Homo sapiens: one gene and its partner. The protein of the gene in region 1 purifies or fractionates together with the protein of each later gene. This does not show direct contact. Each region holds a gene or a part of one and is shown on either strand. Other genes may lie near its edges.

What was found. The genes of interacting proteins can lie anywhere in the genome.
Region 2: the proteins of RAPH1 (region 1) and GPM6A purify together in Homo sapiens (co-immunoprecipitation; one large-scale study listed by IntAct). This does not show direct contact.

What each region holds. Positions count from the first base shown.
Region 1 is NC_000002.12:203,455,302-203,458,801, forward strand, and holds part of RAPH1 (ras-associated and pleckstrin homology domains-containing protein 1), read right to left. Parts: intron 2,295-3,500; coding exon 2,229-2,294; intron 280-2,228; coding exon 136-279; intron 1-135. UniProt on the Homo sapiens protein: Mediator of localized membrane signals. Implicated in the regulation of lamellipodial dynamics. Negatively regulates cell adhesion.
Region 2 is NC_000004.12:175,634,265-175,637,764, reverse strand, and holds part of GPM6A (neuronal membrane glycoprotein M6-a), read left to right. Parts: intron 1-2,707; coding exon 2,708-2,860; 3' UTR 2,861-3,500. UniProt on the Homo sapiens protein: Involved in neuronal differentiation, including differentiation and migration of neuronal stem cells. Plays a role in neuronal plasticity and is involved in neurite and filopodia outgrowth, filopodia motility and probably synapse formation.

The sequences.
Region 1 (3,500 bases):
TAAACAAAGCAATATTCTATGTCTTCCACGAACTGAAACAAATCATAGCCTGGGTTCACCTTGTCAGCATACTCAATACAAATTAAAAGCAATTAGCATAATGAGGAAGTTCAAATTCCAACAGAAGGGACACACCTTTGCTTTTCCTTTGGGAACATAGTAGATACCAGATGCTCGCAAGAGAAAATAACGCTTTTTCCAGGACTTCTTGCCATCATCCTTCAACCAAAGGACTCCTTCAATTTCTGGTACAGTTACAGAACTTCCACAAAAACATTCCTAAAATAACAAGATTATTTGCAAAGACTTATGATCGTTGGATTCTCAGAACAAAGTTGTGTTTACTCCTGTGAAATGCATGACAGTTATTAAACCAAAATGGTTTTATATTAAAACCAAGCTGCTAATTTAACCTCAATTAGAACTTTCCAGCCAGGTGTAGTGGCTCATGCCTGTAATCCCAGCACTTTGGGAAGCGGGTGGATCACTTGAGGTCAGGAGTTCAAGACCAGCCTGGCCAACATAGTGAAACCACGTCTCTACTTAAAAAAAAAAAAAAAAGCCAGGCATGGTGGCGCGAGCCTGTAGTCCCAGTTATGTGGGCAGCTGAGGCACAAAAATTGCTTGAACCTGGGAGGCGGAGATTGCAGTGAGCTGAGATCACACCACTGCACTCCAGCCTGGGCAACAGAGCGAGACTCTGTCTCAAAACAAAAACAAAAACAAAAACAAAAACAAAAACAAGACAAAACACTTTCTATTCTAAACACAATATGAATTTGGAACTACTATGGCAATCCTAAAATGTTTATTAAATAAAAATGCCAGTCATACATGTAATACTGAATTTTTACCTACAAACTTTTAACTAAAACACTGTTTCGGAGAAAAACTAAGTTGACACATGAACTGAGTTGCATGTAACAGTAGTTAAATACCTTTGCAAACAGCACAGTTACACTAAATTTAATAAAACTGTCAGGGCAAACCAAGCGTTAGACTTTATTTTTTCTCTACATTTAGATTAGCTGTCAAACTAAACAGGAATATATTTTAAAAGAATGCAACGTGCTAAGTGTATGATTAAACTTTAAGAATTTAAAAACTATCCATTTATGTGACTCTAAGACAAAGAGGGCATTTATTTAAAAAATAATACTAGGTTGAAAGGACTATAAACACTCAAAATTCTAAGTTCTAAACACTATGCTTTGATAAAAATCTAATATTAAAGAAATCAATCATGTATTTGTGAAAGAAAAGAGAAATCCTCAGAAAACACTAATATAGGACATTTGGGCCTAAATTAATTTTTCTCCTCAAAGTACAGAAAAATTAGGAATTACAAGGCAGATTTTTACTTAACCGTAGTTAGTATCACTATGAAAACTGAATGTTGATCTTCGCTTCCTAATTGCCTTGCTGGTAAGTAAGGGTTTATTCAGGTTTTCAAGTATACTAAGTTATTTGATTTTAGTTCTATAAAATCAGCCAAAAATTCAATTATATTTTTCCAAAAAATGATCATGATTTTAAAAATTATTTAATTATTTAAGGATAAGGCTGGAAATAATTTGTGAACAGCTAATTATATTCAAATTTCTCTCTGAGTAAGCAGATAAAAACAGCAAAACCACATCCTTCATTGACCAGCCACCTCTCCCACTTGGCAGCCCCTAAAAGCTCATTATTCTTAGATCACTAGAATATGGCTTGGCAAAATAATAAAGGGTCTTCAGTGGCCTAACACGTTCACACAGTTGAACTCTCTCCCTCATACTATCAAAGAATACACAGGCTTCTTTAATTAAAATTGTAACTACAAATATAGAACACTGACATACTTGACTTCAAAAAGGTATTTAATATTTTATTTTATTTATTTATTTATTTATTTATTTTATTGAGACAGAGTCTCACCCTGTTGCTAGGCTGGAATGCAGTGGTGCAATCTCGGCTCGCTGCAACCTCCGCATCCCGGGTTCAAGCAATTCCCTGCCTCAGCCTCCCGAGTAGCTGGGATTACAGGCGCCCACCACCACGCCTGGCTAATTTTTTTATTTTTTAACAGACAGGGTTTCACCATCTTGGGCAGGCTGGTCTTGAACTCCTGATCTTGTGATTCACTCACCTCAGCCTCCCGAAGTGTTGGGATTGCAGGCGTGAGCCACCATGCCTGGCCTAATATTTTAATTTTTAAATGTGCAGGAAAATGGGGGTTGTCATACCTCCAAGAGGACTTCTTTGTTTCTATCTGCCATCTCAGCTGTTTCTTTTTTCCCCAAAAGATAATTCTGGAAAAACAAACATATGGAAGGGATGGGTGGGAGAGAAAAAAAGAAGGTTAAAGCATAAATCCATTCTGTTATTCCCTTGGCACAGGTGTGTGTATGTTTTCTTCTAGAGAAATAGCAACTCTGATTTCTGTTGGTATAGAGTAGAATAAACTTTGAAAAGTTACCTGTGTATGGGCATCATCACTAAAATGCTTAACACCAGTCTCCTCCTTGCCTGTCCACTTGTCATAAACTGTCCTTACCCAGACTGTGAGGTGGTATTACATTCAACAGCTGGCAAATATGTTTTGGGATATCTAATGAAAGCTACGTTAGAGGATCTGAAAGGTTTAGAAATTCATAAGTACAACAAGTAAGGCAAATTTCCTTAAAATATACTGATCTAGGTGCAGAAAATTTATGTTCTGGCTTTTTAAGAAGAAATCCCATATTCTCTGGGACTCATTTATTAATAATCTCATTTACTTGACTCAACTAAAAATCTGAATTCTGGCTGGGTGCAGTGGCTCACACCTGTAATCCCAGCACTCTGGGAGGCCAAGGCGGGTGGATCACGAGGTCAGAAGTTCAAGACCAGCCTGACCAACACGGTGAAACCCCGTCTCTACTAAAAATACAAAATTAGCCAGGTGTGGCAGCACGCACCTGTAGTCCCAGCTATGCAGGAGGCTGAGGTAGGAGAATCGCTTGGAGGCGGAGGTTGCAGTGAGCCAAGATCACGCCACTGACTCCAGCCTGGGCAACAGAGCGAGACTCCATCTCAAAAAAAAACAAAAAACAAACAAACAAAAAAATCAAACTGAAGTCTACTCATTAGTACACAGTCATCCCTTGTTGTCCATAGGAGATTGATTCTAGGATCTCCCCTGTATACCAAAATCTGCTGATGCTTAAAGTCACTTATAAAAATGGGGTCACATTTGCATATAACCTATGCACATTCTCCCTTGTACTTTAAATAATCTCTAGATTACTTACAATACCTAATACAATGCCTACCTATCATTTAATTTGCATGAATTCAATGCAGTACTCAAGCGTGGCATATTCAAGTTTTGTTTTTTAGAACCTGGAATTATTTTTCTGAATATTTTAGATCTGCAGTTGTGCAAATCCACAGATGCAGAACCCATGGATATAGAGGGCTGACTGTACTTCTTTTTCTTTTTCTCTTTTTTTTTTTGGAGACGGAGTCTCACTGTC
Region 2 (3,500 bases), on another chromosome or scaffold:
TTTATATTATATATTATATTTTTATATAATATATAATATATTATATATAAATATATATAATATATAATATATTATATATTATATATATATTATATATATTATATATTTTATATTTTATATAATATATAATATATATATAATATATATTATATATTATATATTTTACATAATATATAATATATTTTATATAATATATAATATATTTTTATATAATATATAATATATTGTATATTTTTATATATATAAAAATATAAAGGTTTTATATATATATAAAGGTCATATATATATGAGGTTACTGGGAGTCCTTCTAAGGCTCTCCATATATTTTTATATATATAATTATACATTTTTATATATATACTATATTATATTATTATATATTATATAATATATTATATGTTATATATTATATATTTTTATATAATATATAATATATAATATATATTTTATATTATATATAATATATAATATATATTTTATATAATATATAATATATAATATATATTTTATATTATATATAATATATAATATATATTTTATATTATATATGATATATTATGTCACATATAATATATGATATATGTCACATATATGATATATTATATGTGACATATAATATATCATATATAATATATTATATATTATATATCACATATAATATATTATATATGATATATTATATGTTATATATTTTTATATTACAAATATTTTATATATAAATATATTATATATTTTTGTATTATATATATTTTTATATAAATATATTTTTTATCTTATATATATTTACATATATAAATATATATAAATACATATATATATATATATATGCATGAGTGAAATACTGAAAAGAAATTCAAGATCACTCCAATTCAGAAACAGGTGCTTCCTCATGTATGTAAAATATATATAATATAAAAATATATATTTTATATATAATATATATTATGTAAATATATATATGTATTTTTTTGAGACAGAGTCTACTCTGTTGCCCAGGCTAGAGGAGAGTATCATGATCTCAGCTCACTGAAACCTCTGCCTCCCAGGTTCAATCCATTCTCCTGCCTCATCCTCCCGAGTAGCTGGGATTACAGGCACGTGGCACCACACCCAGCTACGTTTTGTACTTTTAGTAGAGATGGGGTTTCACTATGTTGGCCAGACTGGTCTTGGACTCCTGACCTCAAGTGATCAACCCGCCTTGGCCTCCCAAAGTGCTGGGATTACAGGCGTGAGCCACCGCACCTGGCCTCAATTATACATATTTAATAATAATTTGGGGGCCACATTTTCTCAGATATTATGAAAAGTTTTTGAAGATTGAAAAATACATTCATTTATTTGGCAAATATTTTGTGTATCTGCTATGTACTAAGCACTCTCCACAGCACTTGATATTTTACAGCAACAAAATACTGCATAAACTTCATTATGTGTATAAGCCTTATTTAATCCATATATATATGTATATATATATATATATATATATATATATATATATATACAGTGATTATGCTTTCACTATGTAAATGCCATAATGTACAAGAATATAACTCACAGCCCCTGCTTTCAGGTGGCTTACAATATTCCTTAAACAAAATGCTAAACTTCAGAGGAAACAGAAAATTCTAAAAATAGGTTATTTATAGTGGTATGCATCTTTTCCCCTACATCCCGTGTCAAAATTATTTTGTTTTTTGCTGTTTGTTGACTACCTGAACACACCACAATATTCATTATTTAGAATTGACATTGCATTCTTTATATCCATCTGTACTTTTCTAGAACCAGCCCGCCTCCTCTTTCAATGTACTGTTTACTAATTATCAAAATCTTAGTGTTCTATTTTTCTGAATGTTGGATTAAAATATTGCCCACCCTTTAAAACTCAGAGAATGTAAATAACTGTCAACTTAGTTTCTCTTCCCTATTCATCAAAATTCATCATGTGGAAAGCTGCTTTATCTCCCCTGTGGACCAAGAGGGAAGAAAGAAAAGAAAAACAAATAAGCGGTCTCATTGCTGGGTAAACTCAAGTCAAATAAAGGAGCTTTATTTCTCCAGCAACTTCATTACTCAAGACAAACCAGGAGCTTCCTTTTTGAACATGGCACTATTCCAGTTTTTGTGAATGTATATACATATAAAAAATCCATGTAACACAATATTTTATCTCCTGTAGTTTATAACCAAAAAGAAACTACAAAATTCATCATATGCAAAATTAACCTGATAATCAAGTCCACAGGTATATTTGGGGGTTTCCATGATCTCTCTTTAATTGGGGTAATAGAACCTCCAATTAATTCAAGTCAGTTAGACACAACGGTATGTGAAAATATTTCTGATTATGGATTATAAAACATAGATACATGAACATGAAATGAATCATCTATGGTTTGGGCAAATGAGGACACATTGGGCAGGAAACATCCTATAAAGACTAAGAATTAGTTTTGGATTACTTCCAAGAATTGAAAAGGAGAAAGAGATACTGAAAGAAATGGTGCCAAGAATATGGTGGGATATAGTTGGAGGAATGAAAATATATTTTATATTGTTTCTGTTACCAAAGAAATTTTGTTTCCATTTTATATGTGAACATTTCCTATAAAGAGCTATAATTCGAAGACTTCTTTCGAGATAGCAAGGTGTAATGAAGACACTGAACAAACTTCCAATATAAATTATTTTTCTCTTTGATTAGGTTCACTACCTTATGGTTCTGTCTGCCAACTGGGCCTATGTGAAAGACGCCTGCCGGATGCAGAAGTATGAAGACATCAAGTCGAAGGAAGAGCAAGAGCTTCATGACATCCACTCTACTCGCTCCAAAGAGCGGCTCAATGCATACACATAAATGCATCTTCCTGTTCTTTCTACCATTTGAATGCATTGGTGTTTAACTAAGGGCCATCCAACCATCCAACCTTTAAAAAACAAAACGAAAGTGCTTCTCATCAATGATATGTAAGGTGACTTATGAATCACCTGAGTACAATTCTTTGTTGTTTAGCACTTAAATTTCCCAATTTATTAAATTGATGTAAATCAGATCTTTTCTACAAGCTCCTATCCAGCCTTTTTTTTGAAATTTCTCAAACTCATTTACTAGTTCTGTAAAATCAAAGATACTAACATTGTCAAATGCAAAGATTTGTTTGATTTTTAACCACTTCCCATGTGTTATACATAACACCTTTTGCATTATTTCTTATGTTTTGAAAAGAAAATAGCTTTTTATACTTTTTAGTTTTGATTTCGGTAACTAGTTTAACTACAGGTAACCTTCAAAGGGACCATTGTACATTATGAACAATAGATAGAGATTACATCTTGATGACTCTTGAAATATGGAAATTTTGTCTGAAGATCAGTGGCCATATTACTGTAGGCCCTGGTTCATGTTTTCATCAATCTAAGGTGCAATTTCTAAATTTGTAAGAGTAGGTTTAAAAAAAAAAGTGCTTCTTATCTTTGTTAACATTGTACTTTTCCTT